7 linked regions of the Homo sapiens genome follow. The protein of the gene in region 1 purifies or fractionates together with the protein of each later gene. This does not show direct contact. Each region holds a gene or a part of one and is shown on either strand. Other genes may lie near its edges. The genes, in order: LARS1, TANK, VARS1, SDCCAG8, TPM1, ATAD3A and NDRG3.

Region 1 (3,500 bases):
TTCCTCCCCATTATAGCAAACATAGGGAAACATTACCTCACATTTGGATAAAGAAAACGTGTGTCCCAAATGAAGGCGTCCATTCATATATGGATATGGGAAGGTTACAAAATACTTGCCCTTGCTGCAAAACAACAGTATAAAAAAGAAAGTACAGAAGAATAAATGTTAAGTTCCTTTTACAATAAGGAAGTGGGGTGAAGGAAATGCTTGATATAAATAACTTAAGGTTATTTAAAAAATATTTAAAAGTAAATTTATAAATCTACAAATTTAAAACTCTCTAAAATTGAAAATTACTTTAGATTTACAAGAAATAAGACATTGATAGGTTGCTATTAAGAATTAAATAGCCTTGTAACAAATACTAGAGGTTTAATTTGAGCTAAAATACTTGAGTAAAGATAATATACTAGGTCAGGCGTGGTGGCTCACACCTGTAATCCCAACACTTTGGGAGGCCAAGGCTGGTGGACTGCTTGAGGCCAGGAGTTCGAGACCAGCCTGGGCAACATGGTGAAACCCTGTCTCTACTAAAAACTAGCCGGGCGTGATGGCGTGCGCTGATAATCCCAGCTACTCTAGTGGTTAAGCATGAGAATCAAGAATCGCCTGATCATTGAACCTGAGAGGCAGAGGTTGCAATGAGCTGAGATCATGCCACTGCACTCCAGCCTGGGCGAAAATGAGACTCCATCTCAAAAAAAAAAAAATTCTTTAATACCCTTATGAACCTAGGCTAATTTAATATTTTACTGAATAAATGAGATTTGTTTTCACTAGATACTAGATATATATATAAAGCAATTCAAAGTCCCTCAGGTAATATAAAACATCCTCAATATTACTTGATATGTGGTAGATTCACTTTAAACGCATCCTTTAAAGCTTTTTTTTTTTTTTTAATTTTTTAGTTGTTTTTGTAAAGACAGGGTTCTCAATATAAGAACCACCATGAGCATGAGCTCATGAGCCACCATGCTTGGTCTGTATTCTTTTTTCTTATGAAGAATATCTAACATACATACTGTGTTATGAAGCATAATAAAATGAACACTTGTAAACACACCATCTGACTTATGAATCCACTGAAACTACCTGTTTCCTCTCTACTGTCCCACAAGAGATAACCGACATTCTGAAATTTGCTTTTACCGTTCCCTTGTTTTTGAATAGTTTGCACACTTGGCAGCACCCTTAAACTATTTATCATTTAGTTTCGCTCACTTGTGAGTTTCATACAAAAAAAAGGCATACTTCATATAGACTTCTGCAATTTGCCTTCTTCACTTGACATTATATTACTTTCTTCAGTCTTACTGCATACACCTATAGTTAATTCTCTTTCACTAAACAAAGCAGCTTTTTCAGTTCACTTGTAATTATTTTAAATTACCTTAAAGTTAACCAAACCTCTAGAAGAAAATAGAAGCTTCAAATTATAGCTTCAAGTATAACACCAGAGACTATATTACAGCAATTTCTTTTTCTCTTAAAAAAAAAAAAAAAAAAAAAAGGCTGGGGCCTGGTGGCTCACACCTCTAATCCCAGCACTTTGGGAGGCGGAGGCGGGCGGATCACCTGAGGTTGGGATTTCAAGACTAGCCTAACGTGGAGAAAACCCGTCTCTAGTAAAACTACAAAATTAGCTGTGCGTGGTGGCGCATGCCTGTAATCCCAGCTACAGGGGAGGCTGAGGCAGGAGAATCGCTTGAACACGGGAGTCGGAGGTTGCGGTGAGCCGAGATCACACCATTGCACTCCAGCCTGGGCAACAACAGCAAAACTCTGTCTCAAATATATATATATATATCCATATATATATATATATATCCATATATATATATATCCATATATATATATATATATCCATATATATATATATATCCATATATGTATATATCCATATATATATATATCCATATATGTATATATCCATATATATATATATATATATCCATTAGAATATAGCTTAATAAGCAAGGAAAAAAGACTTTTGAATCAGAAAGTCCTAAAAACAAGCCCAGGCCCAGTCAATTCCCAGTGATGTAACCTTGAACTGGTTACTTAGCCTCTCTGTGCCTCAGTTTCCTCAGCTGTAAAAGAGAAATTTTAAAAGCTGTTAACCTTAAAGTATATTGAGAAGATTAAGGCCAGGCATGGTGGCTCAAACCTGTAATCCCAACACTTTGGGAGGCAAAAGTGGGAGGATTACTTGAGCCCAGGAGTTCAAGACTAGCCTGGGCAAGACAGTGAAACTTCATTTCTACAAAAGAAATTTTTTCAATGCTGGGTGCAGTGGCCCATGCCTATAATCCCGGCACTTTGGGAGGCCGGGGTGGGCAGATCACTTGAGCCCAGGAGTTGGGACCAGCCTCAGCAACATAACAAGACCCCATTTCTACTAAAAATAGAAAAATTACCTGGGTGTGGTGGCGTGCGCCTACAGTCCCACCTACTCAGGAGGCTGAGGTGAGAGGATCACCTGAGCCCAGGAGACAGAGGTTGCAGTGAGCTGAGATCACACAACTGCACTCCAGCCTGGGTGACAGAGGCTCGCTCCATCTGACACCACAGACTCTGTCTCCAAATTAAAAAAAAAAAAAAGATAATGGGCGGGCACAGTGGCTCACGCGTGTAATCCCAGCACTTTGGGAGTCGGAGGCAGGCGGATCATTTGAGTTTGAGACCAGACTGGCCAACATGGCAAAACCCCGTCTCTATTAAAAACAAAAATTAAAACTTAGCCAGGCGTGGTGGCATGCACCTGTAATCCCAGCTACTGGGGAGGCTGAGGCAGAAAAATCATTGAACCCGGGAGGCAGAGGTTGCAGTGAGCCGAGATCATGCCACTGCACCCAGCCTAGGCAACAGAGCAAGACTCCACCTCAAAAAAAAAAAAAAAAAGGCCGGGCGCAGTGGCTCACGCCTGTAATCCCAGCACTTTGGAAGGCCGAGGCAGGCAGATCACGAGGTCAGGAGATCGAGACCACAATGCAACCCCATCTCTACTAAAAATACAAAAAAATTAGCCGGGCATGGTGGCAGCCGCCTGTAGTTCCAGCTACTCAGGAGGCTGAAGCAGGAGAATGGCGTGAACCCGGCAGGCGGAGCTTGCAGTGAGCCGAGATTGCGCCACTGCACTCCAGCCTGGGTGACAGAGCAAGACTCCGTCTCAAAAAAAAAAAACAAAAACAAAAAAAATTAAAAGGTAAAATGAGGCCAGGAGTGATGGCTCATGTCTTATAATCTTAAGAGCTTTGAGAGGCCAAGGCAGAAGGATCACTTGAAGCCAGGAGTTTGAGACCAGCCTGGGCAACATAGCAAGACCCTGTCTCTAAGAAAAAACAAATTAGCCAGGCATGGTGGCGCATGCCTGTAGTCCCAGCTACTCAGAAGGCCGAGGAAGAAGGATTGCTTGAGCTCGGGAGTTTGAAGTTACAGTGAGCTATGACTGTGCCACTGCACTCCAGCTTGAATGACACAGCAAGACTTTGTCT
Region 2 (3,500 bases), on another chromosome or scaffold:
TTAATCTTTTATTTCATTGTTTATATATATACACACACACACCACACACACACATATATGTACATATGTATGTGGCATTCATTCATTAATTCATTTATTTATTTATTTAGAGATAGGGTCTCACTCTGTTACCCAAACTGGAATGCAGTGTCATGATCATGGGTCACTGCAGCAGCCTTGACTTCTTAGGCCCAAACAATCCTCCTACTGAGTAACTGGGACTGCAGGCGTGTGCCATTCTGCGTGGCTAATTTTTTCATTTTTTATAGAGATAGGGATCCCCCTATGTTGCCCAGGCTGGTCTCAAACTGCTGAGCTCAAGTGATCCTCCCTCCTTGGCCTCCCAAAGTGTTTGAATTACAGGAGTGAGTCAGTGTGTCCAGCCCTATTTCTTTGTTAAATGTTTTCTTTGTTGAAATGCTTGTGATGTAGAAAAACGGTCAGTAGGAAATACAAAACCTCAGCCTTTATTTTACTTGAAAATAGTTCTTCTATTTAGAAATATTTAAGCCACATATTTGTATATATGGAACTTCTGTTTGGAATTCCAGCAGATCACTTCAGAAAAATAAAATGAGGAAGCTATGTCACGCATCAGCATTTAAATGCTGCTTTCTGCAGAAGCAATGTCTACCTTTGGTAGTTTTTCTCTTGCTATTCCTGAAATCACTTTATCTTGTGGCTGATCAAGAGTCAAATTATTCTTTCTTGTTTCACTGTCTTCAAGCAGAGGAACACAGCCATAATTGTTATCTGCAAGACAAAAACCTCTTGGACATTAGCAGAAAACCCTTATTTTTGGTACCACCTGAAAAAGCAAAAAATAATACAAACTCAAAACCATAAAGAGAATACATTTTAAGGTAGGAGTTTTAGAAAATTCTTTAGGTAATAGTTACTTTGACAAGTTGTCCATTTATATTTTTTCCTTCCCACTAAACAAACACACAAAACCCCTGCTCTCCAAAAGCCAGCAGTATGTAAAATATGCAGAATTTAGAAAACTAGAAATATGCTCTTTGCATCTGTCAGCAACAATTCAACTTTTATATTCACATTTTCAGGTATGCGTTTCTTATTTAAGATAATTATTTGTATTATGACTCCATGCTTATTATGGGAAAATTAGAAAATGCAGACAGCCAAAAAGAATAAAAAGTAAATGCTACCCAAATTTTTATCACCTGTGAATTATTCCAGTTAATATTTTGGTTTATATATTCTATCAGAATTCTTCTTTTCCTATACATATAACTTCACACAAGAATCACCTTTTTCTGCATAAATGAAAAAAACACTTATTTATGTATCCTGCTTTGTTCATTTTGCTATATATCGTCCACATATTCTTACAAGTTAATACCTATTATCATCACTTTTCTTGGCTACATAGCTATTCATATAGATCAGTGTAACTACTGAATATTTGTTTCTAGCTTTCCATGATTAGACATTATACTGTGATACACATCCTCGCATATATATTTTTGAGTACCTGAACAAATATTTTCTTATGATATAGTCTTAGGACTTGAGTTTTTGGTTCAAAAGGCATAGATGTTTTCAAAAGCTTTTGCTGCTATTTACTGGCAAATTGCTTTTTAGGAAGTTTTATAAACTTAGAGTTCTACCATATAGTATAGTATATGTGAAAGTCCACTTTCCCATATCCTGCAAGTGTTCATTTAAATAAACATAACATATAACTGTACCACAGTTATAATATCAAAACTATTGAGAAACAACGAAGGAATAAAATAGAAAAACTCAACTTACACCTTTCTTTTCACCAAGAGGTTCTAGAAATACATAAAAAATTAACATGAACATACCTTGAGTGGAATTCACAAGAAGTAACTGAGATTTTAGCTTGTCAATAATAGTCTGTTGAAGTGACAGCTGTTCCTGTTGTTCACGTATTCTCTGCTCATAGTTCTCAGTCTGCTGACATAAAAACCAGTTAGCCTGATATTCACTGATAGACATGAACATATATTTACCATCCATTGATAATATAAATAGATATGAGTTGCCCACATTGTCATTTTGCAGGTATTGTGATTTATGAGATACAAACTGGCTCCAGGAATGTACTTGTAATTGTTACAAACATCAGTGATTCAAGACACTTAAAGCACCGCAGAAGTTTTAAAGATTAACTTATTTAAAGACATTTCAGTCAAGGATTCAATCTATGATTTCCTGATCCTTCAGTAAGGATCAAAACTGTAATTTAGCATTTATTCCTTAATGGAAAAAAAAAAGCACAAATGATACAACAGATGCTATATTAAAGTGATTCTTTAAAAATACATACTAACTTAAAAAATTAAGATTTTGTGTCTTTCAAATAAACACACTTCTAAATTTATTTTTAGAGTACACAAACACTAAGGAAGTGTTGATACAAATCAAAGGGACAAATGCAAATTATAAAATTATACTGACCAGAAACTTCTCCACTAAGTTTTAAGAAATTAAGAGAATATAGTTGACCTTTGGTGTCTTAAATGCCAGTTTCCCTTATATTGTTAATCCATTAATTTTGCTATGTTATTGCAGTGACTGTGAGAATAAAGCAATGAAAAAAGACACAAGTTTGTACTGAGGAATACAGATGCTGCAAACATTCAAGCAAATTTGAAACTGTTGTATCACAATTACCAAATTAGTACAGTCTTAAAAGCGTATCACCAAACAATAGCAGAGAACTCTTTTTTTAACCAATTTCTATCCCTGGAGGGATAAATAAATAATGACTAAGTTGCAAATTCCTTGAAATATAAAATGAAAATGAAGTTCTAATAATCTCAGAATGATCTTCAGTAGATACTAGATATTTCACTTTAAACTGATTCTTAAAGTTCAAAATTAGTGAAGCTCTATTATTTTCAGAGACCAATAAACTTAAAAATTTTAATAAATTACATAGCTGTTCATAGATTAGCAAATATAAATTAGCTTAAGAAATTAAAGCTTGGGAGGCTGAGGTAGGTGGATCACGAGGTCAGGAGATTGAGACCATCCTGGTTAACACAGTGAAACCCCATCTCCACTAAAAATACAAAAAATTAGCCAGGCGTGGTGGCAGGCACCTGTAGTCCCAGCTACTTGGGAGGCTGAGGCAGGAGAATGATGTGAACCCGGGAGGCGGAGCTTGCAGTGAGCCAAGATCACACCACTGCACTCCAGCCTGGGCAACAGATCCAGACTCTGTCTCAAAAAAAAAAAAAAAAAAAAAAAAAGAAATTAGAGCTAAATACTACATTTTCCCAAATGAAAGGTGAACTTTTATAAGTAATACACTCCAAATATGAATAACTGACAAAGCTGATAAGCAACCCATGTGGTACATTGTCTTTGCACATTGCCTAAAGGCAGTCTTACATAGTTTCACATTCCCCACAGAATTCATATGGATTAAGTAACTTATACATAGGAGATGTTCAGTATATGTTCACTGAAAAATTAAAAAAGGAAATACGGATTCCAATTACATT
Region 3 (4,091 bases), on another chromosome or scaffold:
CAGTCTTGTTCTTCCCCAGGCCTGGTGACTCACGTATCGGAAAGGCAGCAGCAAGGCTGTGACAGCCGCCAGGTCAGCCAGAGTGGGGGCCTCCCCGGCCAAGTAGGTGTGCAGCCGAAGCCACTCCTCCAAGGGGCTCAGGGCCCTGCCCAGGGCCCCCAGCACAGCCTGGCAGGAAGGGGAAGAAGTGTGAGACAAGGTTTGGCCCACCTCCATCTCCCACCACAACCCAATCCATGTGGCCTCCCTCCACCCCACTCTCACAAATCACCACCTCTGAGTCCCATTTCTTCACTCAAATAGTCACAATAAAAATACTTCTGGGCGGATCACGAGGTCAGGAGATCGAGACCATCCTGGCTAACATGGTGAAACCTCATCTCTACTAAAAATACAAAAAAAAAATAGCCAGGCGTGGTGGCGGGCGCCTGTAGTCCCAGCTACTCGGGAGGCTGAGGCAGGAGAATGGCATGAACCCAGGAGGTGGAGCTTGCAGTGAGCCGAGATCACGCCACTGCACTCCAGCCTGGGCAACACAGCGAGACTCCGTCTCAGAAAAAAAAAAACAAAACACTTCTGACTCATCCAACAAATCCCTACTCAATACTTATGTGTTAGATGCAATATGTTAAGCATAGAAGTAAAGATTATATGAGGCATCTCAATAACTGCCAGGTTCAGAACATCAATAAATATGTATTAAGTACTTCTCCAGGGAATGAGAGGAAAACACGAACAGATGGACAGAACCCTGACCTGGTAGAGTTAACATTCTTGTAGGGGAACAACAAATGAGCAAATATAAAATGAAGTGCCCTATTTTTCTTAACTCCTATGAAGAAAAATAAAGCAGAATGAGGGGAACAGGGGCCAGGCGTGGTGGCTCACACCTATAATCTCAGCACTTTGGGAGGCCGAGGCGAGCAGACCATCTGAGGTTAGGAGTTCGAGACCAGCCTGGTCAACATGACAAAACCCCATCTCTACTAAAAATACAAAAAATTAGCCGGACAAGGTGGTGGGCGCCTGTAATCCCAGCTACTCAGAAGGCTGAGGCAGGAGAATCGCTTGAGCAGTGAGCTGAGATCGCACCATCGCACCGTGGCACTCCAGCCTGGGCAACAGAAGGAGATTCTGTCTCAAAAAAAAAAAAAAAAAAGAAAAGAAAAGAAATAAAAGAGGGGAACAAACAGGGAATTCCAGAAGAGAGGGACTCTATTTTATTTGTTTGTTTGGACAGACATTCTGAATGCAAGGACTCTATTGTAGATAGGGTGATCACAATATGAGGGAGCAAGTCAGGGTCTGCCACATTCATTCATCCATTCAAGAAATACTAATTTTCCATCATGTGCTCAATACCATGCAAGGAGGCAGAGTTGAAAGTACACCAAGGCACAGGTCTCCTTTGGAAGGACTGATAGTTACAATCTGGCAGGGTTATCTCTCCTCTCACTTACCTTCCTCATTTCATTTCTCTTTTATCTCCTCCCAGCAATTGTCATCTCTCCCTCACCCAGTCTTTTCCTACAATTCAAATAACTTCTATCCTCATCAATTTCAGACTCATCAAACTTTTACTAAGAGACTTTAAAAGTGCCTGGCACTAAACTATGTGCTCTGCGCACATCTTTTAATCCTATTAACTCAGTGAGGCAAGCATTACATCAACTTGCCTGCGTGTTCATAGACATAGGAAGACCAAGACACAGCGGGTCTATGAAACGTGCCCAGGGTTACCATACCAGTTGGCAATCTGGGATTTGATCACTCTTTTCCCACATCTGATGTACTACCTTCTTGTCTCATTGTCCATTCCAGTCCTCGCTTCCCTCCTCTGAATTTCTCCCCTCCCCCTCTTCTGTACAACCCCCTCACCTGGGGGTCCTGGGCCGAGCTTCGGAGTCCCAGGGCCGGCAGCGTTGCTCCACAGGCAGCTGGTATTAACTCCGTGTCGGCGTAACTGACCCACTGTTGGACAAGGACAGCCGCCCGGCTGCCCCCTGGGCCCCCCAGGCCTGCTGGCCACAGCAGCTGGGCCACAGCCGTGGCCCCCCACACCCAGAGCCCACCGGGCCCCTGCTCCAGGGCCGGCAGGCGGGGTGGGGGAAAGGGAGTCCTGCTAGTCGGGGGTGGCTGGAGACAGATGCGGGGGTGGGCTCCTCCCCATCCGGGACCCTCCCCAGCCTCCCCATAGCGAGCGGCTATGAGGGCTCGGAGGCTGGGGAAGGCATCTGGGTGAGGGGAGACGTAGAGGGTGGACATAGTTATGAGAAGGTCCGAACGAAGTGGAAAAACCTAAGGAGAAAGAGAGACAGGGGAAGACTGCGGGATCGAGGTGGGTCCTATGTTTGAGTAGAGAGGGGACCCTCACGGGAGCTCCTTCGCCGCAGACACCCGAGTCCCATAGGACTGAGGGTCTGACCAGGCAGGCTGTCAGGAGCCGAGGACCTGGCTCTCAGAGGGGCAGTGTCAGTGGGGAGTTCCTGGGGAAGAGGAACTATCCACCATCGCGGGGCTTCGGGGAGTGTGGAAGGCTCTCAGGAGCGGGTCGGCGTCTGGTTGGATGCGGGTTCGAGCCGCGTGTACGTACTGGAGGGAGATGGTCAGACTGGGCCGGGAATCCACCTCACAGCCAGGCGCCGGCCGCGGCTGGACCGGCCGAGCGGCCCGGGCGGAGGAGTCGAGCGGGCAGAGACGGTGGGCGGCTCTCCAGGTGACCCTAGTTCCCTAAGATCGCCGCCCCGGCAGCCGGCGCCCACGTGTTCCCCCCTTTGTGACAGGGAGCGTTTCCGGGCCTGCGGGTCCTGGCGGGGGCGGCCGTGCCCCGCCTGCGAGTGCGCGCCCGCCGTGTCCGACACTGCCCCGGGGGCCGCGCGGCTCGCCGCCCGCCGGTCTCACGAGGAACAGCGCGGGGCGCGGGGCGCTGGGCGCGGACGCAGGACGAGAGGACACCCCTGAGCACGACGCTCCCGTCAGGCGCCGCCACGGGCACCTTGTGCGGGTCCTCGGCCGGGTGGCGAGGGCGGCGCCCAGCGGGCAGCTAGGGAACTGGCCCAAGAGGGTCGGCCGGCCCTGCCGGTGGAGGGCGTTCCCCACCCGGTAGCGGGGAGGTGCCCAGCAGGGAGCCGCCTGATGAGGACCGAAGGGGAGGTCCATTTGCCGAGGCCCTGGCGTCCAGCTTCCTCTTTGAGCCTCATCTCCTCATGTATGAAAAAAGGGTGACGGCCGGGCGCAGTGGCTCACGCCTATAATCCCAGCACTTTGGGAGGCCGAGGTGGGCGGATCACCTGAGGTCAGAAGTTCAAGACTAGCCTGGCCAAGGTGGTGAAAGCCCGTCTCACGCCTGTAATCCCAGCACTCTGGGAGGCCAGGGCGGGTGGATCACCAGGTCAGGAGTTCAAGACCAGCCAGGCCAAGATGGTGAAACCCCGTCTCTACTAAAAATACAAAAATTAGCCAGGTGTGGTGGCAGGCGCCTGTAATCCCAGCTACCCCGGAGCCTGAGGCAGGGAATTGCTTGAACCCTGGAGGTTGAGGTTGCAGTGAACTGAGATCGTGCCACTGCACTCCAGCCTGGCGACAGAGCTGCAGTATTTGTAAAAATACAAAAATTAGCCAGGCGTGGTGGCACACACCTGTAAGCCCAGCTACTTGGGAAGCTGAGGCAAGAAGATCACTTGAACCTGGGAGGCGGAGATTGCAGAGCTAAGATCACACCACTGCAGTCCAGCCTGGGTGACAAAGTGAGACTCCATCTCAAAAAAAAAAAAAAAAAAAAAAAATTAGCCGGGCATGGTGGTGGGCATCTGTAATCCCAGCTACTCAGGAGCTGTGGCAGGAGAATCGCTTGAACCGGGAGGCGGAGGTTGCAGTGAGCCAGACCAAGCCAGTGCACTCCACCCTGGGCAACAGAGTGAGACTCCCGTCTCAAAAACAAAAAGGAGGGTCACACTAGATGGTCTCTAAGGGTCCCTTAAGGCTGAGAAGTCTCATCTGTATCATGAACTCATATTTGCTGAATGAGTGAATGAAGTTTAGTAATTCCCAGTCACAACTTTTCTCTAAAATATAAATTACATCACTTGTAT
Region 4 (3,500 bases), on another chromosome or scaffold:
TGCCTTGTATTAGTGAATTTTAACAGCAGTTGTGAGAACTTGAAGAATGCAAAGGATTAAACATCACTCTAGATTGGGTTGGGGGAGGTGGGGAAATCATACAAATGCTAAAAATGTTCGAAGCTGCAAAGATTAAATAAAGGAACATATCAATTTGGAGCCACTGAATTACATCCAGCTGCGACAGTGAATTAAGAACCGATTAATGGCTAAAGCTTTTCTCCAGTTTGGATGCTGAAGCAAACTCATTAGGCTTTTAGAGTAGCTATAATGTGTGTACTGTGGGAACTGTTCAATGCTATTCAGGAGACTCTAACTGTAAGCTCAGAGCATTTCCCGCAGAGCTTCTGATGCTATTTTCTTTATATAACATGTGTGCCTGAAAACCCAGCCAAAAACAAGCCCTTTGTTTTTCTACTTTGTTGTGGTCTCTCTCAGCTTTACGTTTCTTGAACACAGGTAAATAAACTCATAATCCAGATGGTGCAACAGATGTGAGAGCAGCACTCTGAAATCAACAGACAGTGGGCAATACTTTCCATTTTCTCTTTTAAACGCTAACTAATATGTAATTCGGAATCTCCGGTGTAGTTAGCATCTGCTCCCTTCGGCCAGCCAAAGGTTACAGGTGTTCCTGATGTCATTTCACAGTAAGGCGTGGGCCTGACTTGTGAGCTAGTGCCCAGGCTCTAATCTTTCCCTACCACCTACCAGTTTTGTCATGCTGGGCCTCCATTTGCTGTATCTTCTGTGTCAGCTCCTGCTCTCTTTGCTGGGCCTGAAGGGCTTGGGCCTTTGCTTCCTTGCTAAAGCTCTGCTGAATGCTATCTTTTTCCTGTCTGCAAAACAGAGAGGAGACATACAGAAATTTAATCTGCAGATGCACAAACCCCCATCATGTCCCCTATAGACCAGAGAGAGCTGATACGTAGTAAATTGTTAAGCATAAGAAGACAAGGACCTTTCTAATGACCCTCCCCCACTTTAGGGGGAAGATCCAAACAACCTTCCATACAGTGTTAAATACGTGCCATGAATCCAAATGGACTAAAGTGTGCAGTGTCAAAACATCATAACAACTAAATAATGGTATTTTGTAACTTTAAAACACAAAACTTTTTTCTCTAATATTCTTAATGTTTTACACTATCAATGAATGTTTCATCTTCTGAGTGGTCAATCTTTCCCAGAGATACTGGAACTCTAGGAACAAAACTTAAATTCTTAAAACTAAGCTTTGTAGACCACCTCTGTTTTCACTCTAAACTTAAAATGGAATCTTAAATATAATGCAGGAGCCTCTATCTAGAGGCGAGTAAATGATTCTGCAGTGCCACATTCATGTTTTCACTAAATATCTTCACACATCAGGCCATATAATGTGAATATGAATACAAATATGAATACGAATAACTTCCCCCAGCACTTCATAATAAAATCCCTCGTGGGTCACATTGAAAGAAATTGCAGGATGAAAAGCTTCTGTAGTCAGACAACAACCCATCGTACTGTGATAGGACACTGACCTATCCCACTGGGTCAATAACCAAGCACAGTGGCTCCAAAGAGAGAAACTTCCTAAACAATTAGAACCTGGGGAATGCAAAGGACCTCAATGCTGGCAGCACTGTGGATACTGACAGTGTGTGTGTGCATGTACATGTGCACACACACACACACACACACACACACACATATTAGAATGGTTCTTCAAACTCTAAATATGGGTAAGTGATATTAGGGTTTCCTTCAATTAACTGACTTAGTTATTTCTAACTCCTGATCTCCTTGCGGGCATTTCTCATCCATGCTGCTTTAGTTTACTAATTGAGATATTTACTGCTTAGCCTTTGCCAAACTAAAAATAAACAATTCCATAAAGCTATCACTACTAGTCTATGTACCGCTGTGGAACTTCAATTCACTGGCTTCTAATTATAAAGCAACATAAGGAAAGCCTGTATTAAAATTGGTCAATGCATGTGGTCATGTTGTAGTATAAAATTCTGGAATGAAAATACACCCACACCTCACTCAAATGGAATCATCGGGGGTCCATGCTAAATGTGAAATAAGGTCCTGTCTGGTACTTCTAATAACAACACCTCCCCCCGGGATGTGGTCCAAGGTCTTGCGTCGCACTCGGTTCCAAACCAGTATATACAACAAATGGATAGTCAGACTAGGCTACTTTTTGCCTCCCCAGTCACACCATGTATTTTCTGGCCATGGATCACTGCACATGTCTCTTCCTCTTCCTGGAAAGCCCCTCCACCTGCCCACTCAATCCCCCTGTAAGATGTATACATACAACTACCCGCTTCAGGCCTAACTCAAAATTCTTCCCCTCTCCTTCCTCTCTCCTGAATTAACTATTCTTCCCTCAATGACCTCAATATATGTTGTGTACATCGTACAAAGATAGTATTTATCACACTTTAGTTATTGTTTAACATGTCTGCTTCGTTTGTCATCTTTATCTCTCTATACCCTCAGCCCAGCCTCAGTGCTTGGCACACAGGAAGTGGGTGGTGAATATTTCATGATTGGATGTTGTTATACTCTTGTCATAGGGGAAAGGAAGGCTGCTATCTTAACGTGTAGCTGGAGAATCTGCTTAAGTCTTACGAGAGGAGGCAAAAACTTTTCAGACGTGTTAGAAAAAGGTGCTTAGAAGAGAATGGTTCTAATGGCTCTGCCAGCTGGAGACCGTGCTGCTAAAGGAGTCAGCTAAAAAAACAAAAAGCCCTGTCAGACCATCCCCAAGTCAGACCCCCTGCCGGGGCAGGAGCCAGAGATAGAAATCTGGGGCTCTGCAACCCCTAACAATTGGGTGACATAAATGCATTCTCCAACACCAATACCCATCTGAAAGTGAAAGGGGCACTATTAATAATTATACCAAGATAACAGTCACAACTGAAACTACCCATCACAAACTGGTACTTACAGTTCCCCAATGTAAAGGGGTTGTCAATCTCACCATCATTCTTTAGAATAAGCTGCCTAATTACTGATATTCTAAATTGACTATAGGTCAGGCACGGTGGCTCACATCTGTAATCCCAGCACTTTGGGAGGCCAAGGTGGGCAGATCACTTAAGGCCAGGAGTTAGAGATCAGCATGGCCAACAAGGCAAAACCCCATCTCTACTAAAAATACACAAATTAGCTGGGCGTGGTGGTGCATGCCTGTAATCCCAGCTACTTGGGAGGCTGAGGCATCAGAATCACTTCAACCTGAGAGGTAGAGGATGCAGCGAGCAGAGATTGTGCCACTGAACTCCAGCCTGAGTGATAGAGTGAGATTCTGTCTCAAAATAGATAAATAAAAATAAAAAATAAATTGACTATAGAAAAGAACTACTGTCATAATTGAAGTCCTTTTTATAAAATAAAACAATTTAAAAGACTTCTACCAACAAATGTTGAGTTACACATCAACTGATGTTTCTCGAATCCTTCCCCAAATTTCCCTCTATTTGGGAAACTATACATTA
Region 5 (3,500 bases), on another chromosome or scaffold:
TACAGCCAGAAATCGGACTCAAGAGTTTCACTCAACTCTTTCCTTCAAGCCACTTTATCATAGGATCCTTACAAAGGAACTTAAATAGTTTAAAATTCAGTGGTTCTAAAATACACACCACATGAAGGCCCAACACAATCCAGTAACCCCTTTTAGAATAACTGGCCTCATTGGAACAGAGCCAAGACAAATTTCCCAAGTGTTTTTGATGTAAGCCTATGATTTTTCTTTGAAGTCAAGGTTAATACAAGAAAAGTATCAAACTCCTAAAAAGAAAAATAATACAAGTACTGTTTTTACTTGGTATCTGTCACTGAAATAAAATGTTGGTTTCTTTGAGAGGCAATGATTTTTTTCCTGTCATAAGAAATTGTTGCTATGAGCCTCAGAACACTTATAAGACTATGATGGTCCATTATACACACTTGCACTGGTGGCTGTTTAAATATTGTGCATGGAAGTGGGAGATGGAATTTACTAATCAGGTAAAATATCCTCATCCACTTTGAATGTATGTTCACTAAGGGGTGGTGGGGTTTTCAGAACACTTAGGAGTTTTCTAGAAATTACAATACACACTTAGGGACCCATGGTAATAGGATAACAAATTTCTCTACACACAGCCCTGTCTTTGTCATTGAACTGTAAGCTGCTCACATCCAGAGAACTCACAGTTCTCTGCACAGAGTATGGGCTCAGTAAGATGAGTAAAACCAACCTAATTTTAATAAAAGCAACGTTCTCAGCTTATGGATCCACAATACAGAGTTGGAAATGCAAATGTAGTTAGAAACTGTGGTCATAGTCTTTAATCAAAGGAATCTGAGAACCTTCAGCTCTTTGCTCACCTAGATTTGTAAGATTTTAAATGCCAAGTTTTATCTGGGAAGAGAGGTGAGTAGGGCATCTCCAACCACGGTGAAGGACTCTATAAAAACATGTAAATACACTTTTATCTTGACAAAAATGTAGTAATTGGTTGATGGAGGCAGGGAGCAGGGCAAATGTGAAATAAATCAGAGGAAGAGCATTTACAACTGTACTGCCTACAAAGTAAATCATTATCAGTGCACAGCTGGTAAATGGACCCAGCTAGGAATTACTGGCAGATGACTGTTGTTTCTGGTGTGTGTGTGTATTGAAGGGTGAGGGTAATAGGATAACAAATCTCTCAATTATAGGGAAGTGTCTTTTAAAAACCATTAGGCTTTTTTTTTTTATTACTATTACTGGAAGGATGTATATATTAAGGATATACTTTTGGGTCAGGTAAGATTTCTTCACTTTTCTATATTTTCATTTTCCAGTAAAATTCTATTCCTTTTGAGGGTGGGGGGGAGACTCAAAGCGGAAGCAAAAACAAAGGGCAAACAAAACAAAACAAAATTTAAAGCCACACAAAAAAACCAAGCACACAAACCAAAAGCCCTACAACAACAAAAAGCCTCCATAGAGTGTCTAGGTTATGTACTCAAAAGCACTGTACACTTTCTTTTCTTTCCCCCTTTCTTATCATTTTCAATATGATGGCAAATATCCTTGTTACAGAGGCTATGGCCTATTAGAGAAATGCCAGCAAGATTTTCAAAACTTTTTTGTAGCTACCAAGTTCCAAGTTCTCTGCTCTGCTTTAGATCTGGGCCTGAACCTCAAGGACTTTGTACTCACAGAAAGACGACTGTTTATGCTTTGGGGAAAGAACCCTCTGGGTGACAGGTCTCTATCCCCAGCTCCCCACACAGCCGAGTCACCAGAAAGGAAGGAAACAGCACCTCATGTTCATTCCAGCCTTGCACATGAGATCTTCCTACCCAAAGGGCCCCTACCAATCCATCCGTGTCTTCCCTCCGATCACCCCCACCCCCATTCTTTCCCTTAGCTCTTGGCACTGTGTTTACAGAATGCTGTTGTCTAAATGCCACTCTTGTTTCCCCAGGGGCATTCTGTAGAACCTCAGACTCCTGGACATCAGAGAATATGTCCTACAGGAATACCAGCCAGCAGGGCTTCATACAGGGTGCCCCAGCAACGACTGGGCATGGAGACCAGTTTCTAGGTGCCAGTTTGTGATATAGTGGGAGGAATGGTAGGGCACACACAGCAGACCTGAGAGTGGCTGCCCCTTCCTGAGGAGGCCCTGTAAATCCAAAAAATAGGGTCTCAATTTTTTAGCTAGAAGGATCCCTAGGCATTGTCCAGATCAGCAATTCCCACAAGTGGCTGAGTGTCAGAATCAACTCAGAGATGAGCATTAAAAAAAAAACTTTCAGCTGGGCGCTGTGGCTCACGCCTGTAATCCCAGCACTTTGGGAGGCCGAGGCGGGCAATCATGAGGTCAGGAGTTCGAGACCAGCCTGACCAACATGGTGAAACCCCGTCTCTACAAAAAACACAAAAATTAGCCAGGCATGGTGGCACATGCCTGTAATCCCAGCTACTCAGGAGGCTGAGGCAGGAGAATTGCTTGAACCCGGGAGGCAGAGACTGCAGTGAGCCGAGATCATGCCACTGCACTCCAGCCTGGGCGACAGAGCAAGACTCTTGTCTCAAAAACAAAAAAAAAAAAAAAAAAATCAAACTTCCAGGCCGTGTCCCTAGAGATTCTGATTCAGGAGGTCAAAGGGGGAGGGCAGGAATCTGTACTATAAATAAACAATCCCCTTTGCCACCACCCAAAGAAGCTGGCTATTCTTCTAGCTCTTGACTAGAAACAGGCGGCAGGAGGGAACTCTGACCCTGGGCACAGAAGTATGTGGAGGCCATACAGCCATCAGTGTGAGACAGGATTAAGATCCAAGTCACTAGGCTCCCAGCATGCCGGCTCTCCACTATGTCACTTCTCCTGGCTTCCCGGAACATCACGGAAACCTTGGAACTGGCAGTTCTCACTCCTGTGTCTTTATCTCTCCTGAGATCAGATTGAGATGTTCTCCGGCCCCCACCCCAACTCCCCACAAAAGGCCTCAGGCACAGATCCTAACCAGGACTGGGAGAACAGTTGCTGCAATGCAAATCATCTGCTAAAGTGATTATCACAATCTTTTTGAAATGAGGCAGGATATAAAATTGAAAACTTCATAAAACAATGCTAATGGGTAATAGGAAGCTCACATAAGGACACGGAACATTTACTCCCTAGCCCAGAAGTCAATGCCTACTGCCCCAGAGGTTTCAGAGCAGGACAGGCAGAGGGGCTTTGAGGTTAAAGCCAGGACCTAGGAGTAGTATCTGAGGTACACCTATCTTTATGGGAAAACCCTGAACCCATGACAGGCTCTGCAGGCCCTATTATACTGGCCTAGTAGAATTTTTGTTTGGCTCGTTAGAATTCAAGATATGCTTAATTTTATAATTTAATCAGGGCCACTTTTTTCTCTTTCTTATTTTTACTTTTTATTCTGATTTATTATGCTCTATGTTCCAAAAGCCCCACACCTCTCACCTTTACTAGCTTTTATTTCTGGTATTTTTTTTTTTAAGTTTTGAGCTTATTTCAATAT
Region 6 (3,500 bases), on another chromosome or scaffold:
CGGGAGGATCACGAGGTCAGGAGATCGAGACCATCCTGGCTAACACGGTGAAACCCCGTCTCTGCTAAAAACACAAAAAATTAGCCAGGTGTGGTGGCGGGAGCCTGTAGTCCCAGCTACTTGGGAGGCTGAGGCGGGAGAATGGCGTGAACCTGGGAGGTGGAGCTTGCAGTGAGCCGAGATGGGGCCATTGCACTCCAGCCTGGGTGATAGAGCGAGATTTCTTCTCAAAAAAAAAAAAAAAAAAAGCTGTTTTTCACACAAAGCTTACAGAGAAAAAGAAACTGAACAGAGGGCTGCAGCCTGGCCCAGGCAGACGGCTGTGCCCACCCCACCACCCCATTGTGGCCAGAGGCTTAGTGACACTCACGGTGGCTCGCTTCCGAAGGAAGGCGTCCGCTTCATCCACAAAGAGCAGGAGGCTGTGAACGAGAGGGAGGCCAAGCAGGGCGAGAGTGACACCAGGAGCAGCCCACAGCAGCGTCCGGCCGCGGCAGGAGCAGGCCAAGCAGGCAGATCCCCACGGGGTCAGGCTCTGCCCCATCAGCAGCCCTAAGTCCTGGACTCGACAGAAGCCGATCAGCCTGGCCTCTGGGCAGCTGACCACGGCCCAGCCTCAGAAGGCCGTGGGAAACCAACCACACACGGGGGCGACGAACTCCGCCCCACAGGCTTCACCCCCACCCGGCCCAGTGCAGCACTGGTGGCCGCTTAGAGTCCACGACAGGGACAGGTCTTCTAAAGTGAAAGGTCAAAGGCCAGAGGGGAGGGTGCCAACCATGAGCATCGTGGTTCCAACGAGGACAGCCGAGGCCACAAGGGTGCCCGGGCTGTGCCCTGCGCGGGGTCACTGTGGGACCTATTGAAGGGAGTGTGCCATGCTGTCTTCAGCTAACTTTCAAATGGTTCTAGAAAAGGCAACCAGTGCCCACGCCCACCTGCAGGCGTGTTGGGGGGAGGGCGGCTGTGGAGGAGCCTCCCCTGCAGCTGTGAAGACTCCTCTCCCCCTGCACCCACCCACCTCCCTTCTGCCCTGAGCCAAGTATCCCACTGGCAGCCTCCACACGCTGGGGGCCTCGTGTCCACCAGGGTCCACACTCAGGGGACTTTCCCTCCGAGGGACCCTCCACTGGGCCTCCTGCGTGGCCACAAGGACAGAGCTGCAGAAAGACAGGGTCCCCAAGAGACACCTGGACCCCCTTCCCAGAAGGCAGCCTGCTGGGCCGCAGCCAAGGGCCTGGTGCATGCTGTGGGGACGTCTCACCCGCGCCGGCTGGTATTGGCCCAGTCAAAGAGCTTGTGCATGGCGGTCACGCCTTCCCGCCCCATGGGGGCCACGTCCCCGCCTGTCATGATGGCGTAGTCCATGCCTGAGTGCAGGGCGAGTTTCTGGACAGGAAGAGTGAGGGGAGACAGAGCAGATGTTCCCTCCGCCTCTGCAAAGCCTGCACACTCCACCCGGAGTGTGGAGGCTCTGCCCAGCGTCCCTGCCTGGAAGCCACAGCCTGCCAGACAGGAGACGTCCCCCGCCTGGAAGATGGGAGGCGCTGCTGCCCACACCAGCACCCTGAGCCTACACGAGGGTGGGCAAAGGCCTAAGGGGGGTCCATTCCCCAGGCAGCTGAGCCCCCCAGACACCTGCAGGCAGGTGAGACCCCAGCGGCCCCTGGCCCACCTGTTCAGCCAGGCGCTCTCACCTTGGCAAACAGCGTCTTCCCGGTGCCTGGTGGCCCGTACATCAGGATGTTCCTGTACAGGCTGCGGTTCTTCTTGGTGTTCCTTGTTGCTATGGCGATGTCGCGCACCCGTGCTTCCAGGCTGGGCTGCCGGGGAAGACGGGGGTTTGGAGGAGACACTGTGCACCCATGGAAGCCTCAGGGGAAGGGGCTGCGGGAATGCCTGGGTGCAGACTCGGCTCCTCGGGAAGCCTCCCACCTCAGGGGCAGCCTATCTATCCCCAGCACGGTCCAAGCAGTCGCATCTCAGGACCCAAAAGCTCCTGGGTGCCACCACGAGCGCCAGCAAGGGCCACAGCCCGGCCCAGCTCCAGGGTCCCCTCCCTGCGCCTCCCCGGTCCCAGGCACACCGACTTACACTGAGCACAACACCCTCCAGCGCGTCCTGGGGTCGACTGAGGAGCCGCCGGCTGACCTGCCGGAGGGGAAGGGGAAGCGCCATCGGGTCACCTGCCACAGCCACGGAACAGCCACCAACGCGCACACACACGCTCGGTAACACGCAGAAACGGAGCTGCCCCAAAGCACAGCCAGGACCGGCCCGGAGCTGGAACCCTGCCCCGCCCGGAGACCAGGCGGCTATTGCTGGGATTAGGGGCATTTTCCGGTTCCTTATTGGCTTTTATTTTCTTAACCACCTACCCAGTGACCTGTGGAGAGCAGGCACCTCGGGGGCGGCGAGCGGCGCGGCTCCCCAGGGAGGCCACCAGACGCCGTGGCCTGTAGCAGCTTCCCTGATAGACGGCCGCACACCCAAGTCCCGGGTCTTGCAAGGACCCCGATGTGCTCCCAGGCCCCATCAAGAGCCCTGAGCAGGGGACACCGAGGCAGACAGGGGAAGGGTCTCACTGATGCAGACCCCTAAGGTACAGCGCCAGACAGGAAAACCCACCCGTGAAGCAGTGTGCGGGTGCCCGTTATCCGGGGAAAGGGAAGGGACGGGAGGGTGTGCGTGGGCTGTGCTCGTGGGGCAGAAGGGACTCAGCCAGGAACTGCACTCAGGGAGGGCCAGGCCTGCGCTGCTACCTGGATGGGGTGCCGCAGCGCCTCAAGCACCGTGATGCGGGACGTCTCCCTCACTAGGGACGGCTTCCCCAGCCGAGCCTCGATGAAGCGGCCGGCGACAAGCGTGGCATTCTTGGCTGAGTAGACCCCAACAGCCAGCAGCGTCAGCCCAGCCACCTGCAGCAGAGACACCGCACTGGCGCACCGGCCCCCACCGTCCCTCCCTCTTAGAGCAGGAGACGCACGGGGCTGCCCCCACCCTCTCTCCGCCCGAGGGAGAAGCACAGGGCCGTGCACTGGCCCCACAGGAACGCGAATTCCCGGCCCCGAATCCCACAGCCACGCGGTTACAGGAGGCAGGTGGGGCAGTCACAGCGCCCTCACTCAGGGCCATTTTCTCTGCAACTGGCAGCATAAATCCTAGAAAGCCTCGGTCGCTGAGCGGGGCCCTGGACAGACCCAGCCGGATGTCACAGGGCCACACCCTCTGGTACATTCTTGGCCACTAAAAATGGTACTTTATTCCTGGAAAACAAGACTAACCCAAAATCTCTAACTCGTTTTAAAAATCAATTAGGCTGGCTGGGCACAGTAGCTCAGGTCTGTAATCCCAGCACTTTGGGAGGCTGAGGCAGGTGGATCACCTGAGGTCAAGAGTTCAAGACCAGCCTAACCCACATGGAGAAACCCCGTCTCTACTAAAAATACAAAAAATTAGCTGGCCATGGTGGCACATGCCTGTAATCCCATCTACTTGGG
Region 7 (4,285 bases), on another chromosome or scaffold:
GAGAGACTTAATTGTCTAACCAAGGACATAGGGATAAATAGTGGATGGTGAACTAGAACTAATTTGAATTCAGTAAATGTTAACGAACATAAACCATAAAATAAATGGCTGTGCTCAATTAATGTTAGTTTTCCTTCCAACTAAATTCAGTTCAAGAATTGTGCTTGATGAATAACAATATTATTGCTGCCCTCTGAGATGTTTGGTAATATTCATTTGTTCAGTTTGCCTTAATTAAAAGAATATGCTTTTAGTGGCCGGGCGTGGTGGCTCACACCTGTAATCCCAGCACTTTGGGACGCAGAAGCAGGCGGATTGCTTGAGGTCAGGAGTTTGAGACCAGCTTGGCCAACATGGTGAAACCCCATCTCTACTAAAAAAAAAAAAATACAAAAATTACCCAGGCATGGTGGCGCCCGCCTCTAGTCCCAGCTACTTGGGAGGCTGAGGGACTTGGGAACCTGAGCCGAGATGGCGACACTGGCTCGGGTTAAAAGGGCGTGGTGGCTCACACACCTGTAATCCCAGCACTTTGGGAGGCCGAGGCGGGCAGATGACGAGGTCAAGAGATCGAGACCATCCTGGCCAACACGGTGAAAACCCGTCTCTACTAATAATAGAAAAATTAGCCAGGCCCGGTGGCACACGCCTACAGTGCCAGCTACTCGGGAGGCTGAGGCAGGAGAATCGCTTGAACCCAGGAGGCAGAGGTTGCAGTGAGCCGAGATCGCGCTAGTGCACTCCAGCCTGGCGACAGAGTGAGACTCCGTCTCAAAAAACAAAACAAAACAAAACAAAAAAACTTTTAGTCAGTGGTACTTAATGGTAAAGAAATAATAGATAATAAATAGAGGAAGAGTGTGTCCTGTACATTTTGGTGTTAAATTGTTGGGTCATTAAGTTTAATATCTGCAATCATTCTGGGAAAAAAAATTCCATCTCTAATGTTGCATTCAAGAAAGTAGATGATTTGGCTGACGGTTGTAATAGGGGTGATACAATGGAGGACTGGTAATTCGGAGCCCTGAGTCTTGGACTCTAGTTCTTAAATTACTATGTTCATTCACCAAAAATTTACTAAGCTCTTTCCACGTGCCGAGCACTGTGCTAGGCGCCCTGTGACCTTGGGTATGGCTCTAGGTCACCTTAAAAGGAGGATGCCATACCCTGCAAGAGCTCTTAGGGGCTTCATAAGGATGCGACTCAGGGAACTGAGGGAAGCGCTCCAGACGCAGAGCTCAATGGCCCTGCCGCCCAGCGCCTCCAAAATCTGAGATTCTTCTCTGAGGAAACTCCGCAGCAAGAAAAACTACATCAAAGATGGCGCCGCCGGCCTCTCCTGGCTCAGCCACCATCTTCTCGGTAGTTCCCGAGGTGGACGGGCACAGCACTCATGCGCCGCCCTGGCGTCCTCGGCGCGCCTGCGCGGACCGCAGCACCTCCCCCGCCCCTCTCGCCGCCGCCGCCGCCGCCGCCGCCGCCGCCGCCGCCGCCGCTGCTGCTGCACTGACGGCGGGTGCCCGCGCCTCAGGTGAGTGAGCGCCTCCGCCCGGCCCGCGGGGGGCGCGCGGCGCCGCATTCGGGGGCGTCGCTCCTTTGCCCTGCTCCTTCCCCGCATCATCTCCGCGGCACGGCGAGGCCCTGGTGGCCCGTGCTGCTTGCCTCCCCCGTGCCCCCGGGGCCCTCTGCCCCGCCCCGCCCGCCCGCCGGACCCAGGTCAGCCCGGCTTTCCTCGGCCGCTCCCCGCGCCCAGCCCGCCGGCGACAGCGTGTGGGTAGCAAGAGAGCCTCCCTCCGGGCTCAACACCCTGGGTCACAGGGACGCCCCCCGCAGGCGCGAACCCTTCTCTCGCTCTGGCTCTGCAGGCGGCAGAGCTTGGTGGGCCTTGGGGTTGCTCATCCATCTACCTCGCCCGCTCCAAGAGCCCAGATGCTTGGAAGAGGGGCCGTGAGCAGCCCTTGCACCCGTCCGGCCCCAGAGCAGCAGAGGGCATCCTCTAACGGGACCCTACGACTACCCTACCGGGGAGAGGCTTCTTAGCCCCACTTAACAGCCGAGGAAACTGAGGCACGGAAAGGTGAAGTGCCATGCCCAAGGTCACGCAGCTGACAAGTGGCAGGGTCAGCTCTCAACTCAGGGTCTCGGGCTCTCAGGCCAGTGCGGTTGGAATTTGATCTCGTACCTTTGAAAAAATTTTGAAATCACTTGTCATCTCTGAAGTTGCTCTCGAACGTCGTAAAAGTAGGCTGCACAAAAAAGATTTTCTTGTTGTCGGAGTACAATTGAGGTGTTACTGTAATAATAATAGTGTTATTAATATAAGAGCTAACGTTCTTCCACCGCTCGCTGTGTGCCAGGGATCTTGCTAAGCATTTTATTAAGATAACCTCGCATAACCACCTCTGCACTTCCCAATCCAAATGCTTCCCCCTTCCTTGTCATGAAGCCCTTTTTTTCTTCCTGCAGAGCTGGCCTCCCTATCACAGGTAGACTAGGAGCCCCGTGGATTAGGAAGCAGGGAAGCTTTCCTTTGGTGGCTTACTGACAGAACAAGAGTGATCCTTGCCTGCTGGCATCCAGATCACCCCCGCCGCGCCCCCCCCCCCCCTTACCCTGGCCCTCAGGGGATATTATTAGCCTTCCTTTCCTGCCAAGAGAGCAGGACTGGGCTGACTGGGCTAGCTGGGCGGGCTGGACTTGGAGGTGACAGAGCAGATTTGGCTAGCACTCACCTCATTCCGGGGCTTTCTGTCCGAGGCTTTCTGCCTTTGCCCCAAGGTTGGGCTTGAACATTTCAGTATTTAAGATAAAGCAAGAAGAGAAAGAGAACATTGATAGAGTGGTGCTGAATTTAAGAAGCCTCCCATGATTTAAAGTTCCAAATGAACAGCTATAAAAATATGTGAATGTTTCTCCCCCAAAATAACTAGCTCAAACTGTCGTTTTTCTCCCTTAGCAAATCCTCCTCCACATTTCAAAGGCTCCACTAAATCACCACCTTCTCTGTGAAGCCTTCCCTGCTTGATTTTCCCAATTAGAATTACACGTTCACAAAACAGGGTCTTAGCCTCAGTCTTACCCTGCGGACTTCTAGCCCCTTGAGGGCATGGTCCATCTTTGCAGCTCCAGATGCCTGGCTCACAGTAGATCCTTGGTAAGGACTCAGTTAATTTCCACCCCCCCTTTTCATTACTCAAAGCGTGGTGTTCTTCTGGTGCCCTTCTGTTCCTCCTTCCTGCCCTTCAGTTTCTCTTTGCTTGTCTCTTCCTTCAGATTAAACTTGTCATCACCATTTACCACTCAAAGGCCTCCATCCACCCTGTTGTTTTTGAAAACTTGCAGATAAGAGTCTTGCATCAAAAAGCCTGTTTATGGACCGGGCGCTGCGGCTCACGCCTGTAATCCCAGCACTTTGGGAGGCCGAGGTGGGTGGATCACGAGTTCGGGAGATGGAGACCATCCTGGCTAATACGGGGAAACCCCGTCTGTACTAAAAAATAACAGAAAATTAGCCGCGTGTGGTGGTGGGCGCCTGTAGTCCCAGCTACTCGGGAGGCTGAGGCAGGAGAATGGCGTGAACCCGGGAGCTGGAGCTTGCAGTGAGCCGAGATCGCGCCACTGCACTCCAGCCTGGGCAACAGAGCTCCGTCTCAAAAAAAAAAAAAAAAAAAAAGCTTGTTTATGTTACTTGAACGTGCACTCACGATTGAGCTGCTTTTGTTTTTTGTTTGTTTTTTGTTTGTTTTTGTTTGTTTTTTGAGACGGAGTCTCGCTCTGTTGCCCAGGCTGGAGTACAGTGGCGCCATCTCGGCTCACTGCAAGCTCCGCCTCCCAGATTCACGCCATTCTCCTGCCTCAGCCTCCTGAGCAGCTGGGACTACAGGTGCTCGCCACCACCCCCAGCTAATTTTTTTTGTATTTTTTTAGTAGAGACAGGGTTTCACCGTGTTAGCCAGGATGGTCTCGATTTCCTGACCTCGTGATCCGCCTGCCTCGGCCTCCCATAGTGCTGGGATTACAGGCGTGAGCCACCAAGCCAGGCCGAGCTGCTTTTGTTTTATTATTATTATTATTATTTTTTGAGACGGAGTTTCGCTCTTGTTGCCCAGGCTGGAGTGCAGTGGCGCAATCTCGGCTCACTGCAACCTCCGCATCCTGGGTTCAAGCGATTTTCCTGCCTCAGCCACCCAAGTAGCTGGAATTACAGGCGCCCGCCACCATGCCCAGCTATTTTTTGTATTTTTAGTGGAGACGGATTTTCACCATGTTGGCCAAGCTGGTCTTG

What was found.
Region 2: the proteins of LARS1 (region 1) and TANK purify together in Homo sapiens (tandem affinity purification; one large-scale study listed by IntAct). This does not show direct contact.
Region 3: the proteins of LARS1 (region 1) and VARS1 purify together in Homo sapiens (affinity purification with mass spectrometry; 2 studies listed by BioGRID, with this or other methods). This does not show direct contact.
Region 4: the proteins of LARS1 (region 1) and SDCCAG8 purify together in Homo sapiens (affinity purification with mass spectrometry; 2 studies listed by BioGRID and IntAct, with this or other methods). This does not show direct contact.
Region 5: the proteins of LARS1 (region 1) and TPM1 purify together in Homo sapiens (affinity purification with mass spectrometry, with the first as the bait; one large-scale study listed by BioGRID). This does not show direct contact.
Region 6: the proteins of LARS1 (region 1) and ATAD3A purify together in Homo sapiens (affinity purification with mass spectrometry, with the first as the bait; one large-scale study listed by BioGRID). This does not show direct contact.
Region 7: the proteins of LARS1 (region 1) and NDRG3 fractionate together in Homo sapiens (co-fractionation; one large-scale study listed by BioGRID). This does not show direct contact.

What each region holds. Positions count from the first base shown.
Region 1 is NC_000005.10:146,172,651-146,176,150, forward strand, and holds part of LARS1 (leucine--tRNA ligase, cytoplasmic), read right to left. Parts: intron 125-3,500; coding exon 37-124; intron 1-36. UniProt on the Homo sapiens protein: Aminoacyl-tRNA synthetase that catalyzes the specific attachment of leucine to its cognate tRNA (tRNA(Leu)).
Region 2 is NC_000002.12:161,201,928-161,205,427, reverse strand, and holds part of TANK (TRAF family member-associated NF-kappa-B activator), read right to left. Parts: intron 1,942-3,500; coding exon 1,833-1,941; intron 754-1,832; coding exon 635-753; coding exon of another isoform or gene 602-634; exon of another isoform or gene 452-601; intron 1-451.
Region 3 is NC_000006.12:31,792,953-31,797,043, forward strand, and holds the start of VARS1 (valine--tRNA ligase), read right to left. Parts: upstream 2,801-4,091; 5' UTR 2,594-2,800; exon of another isoform or gene 2,299-2,593; 5' UTR 2,266-2,298; coding exon 1,879-2,265; intron 169-1,878; coding exon 34-168; intron 1-33. UniProt on the Homo sapiens protein: Catalyzes the attachment of valine to tRNA(Val).
Region 4 is NC_000001.11:243,413,041-243,416,540, reverse strand, and holds part of SDCCAG8 (serologically defined colon cancer antigen 8), read right to left. Parts: intron 840-3,500; coding exon 712-839; intron 1-711. UniProt on the Homo sapiens protein: Plays a role in the establishment of cell polarity and epithelial lumen formation. Also plays an essential role in ciliogenesis and subsequent Hedgehog signaling pathway that requires the presence of intact primary cilia for pathway activation.
Region 5 is NC_000015.10:63,052,747-63,056,246, reverse strand, and holds part of TPM1 (tropomyosin alpha-1 chain), read right to left. Parts: intron 1-3,500. UniProt on the Homo sapiens protein: Binds to actin filaments in muscle and non-muscle cells. Plays a central role, in association with the troponin complex, in the calcium dependent regulation of vertebrate striated muscle contraction.
Region 6 is NC_000001.11:1,522,162-1,525,661, reverse strand, and holds part of ATAD3A (ATPase family AAA domain-containing protein 3A), read right to left. Parts: intron 2,919-3,500; coding exon 2,763-2,918; intron 2,152-2,762; coding exon 2,095-2,151; intron 1,824-2,094; coding exon 1,698-1,823; intron 1,390-1,697; coding exon 1,265-1,389; intron 423-1,264; coding exon 371-422; intron 1-370. UniProt on the Homo sapiens protein: Essential for mitochondrial network organization, mitochondrial metabolism and cell growth at organism and cellular level. May play an important role in mitochondrial protein synthesis. May also participate in mitochondrial DNA replication.
Region 7 is NC_000020.11:36,743,291-36,747,575, reverse strand, and holds the start of NDRG3 (protein NDRG3), read left to right. Parts: upstream 1-1,485; 5' UTR 1,486-1,531; exon of another isoform or gene 1,532-2,077; intron 2,078-4,285.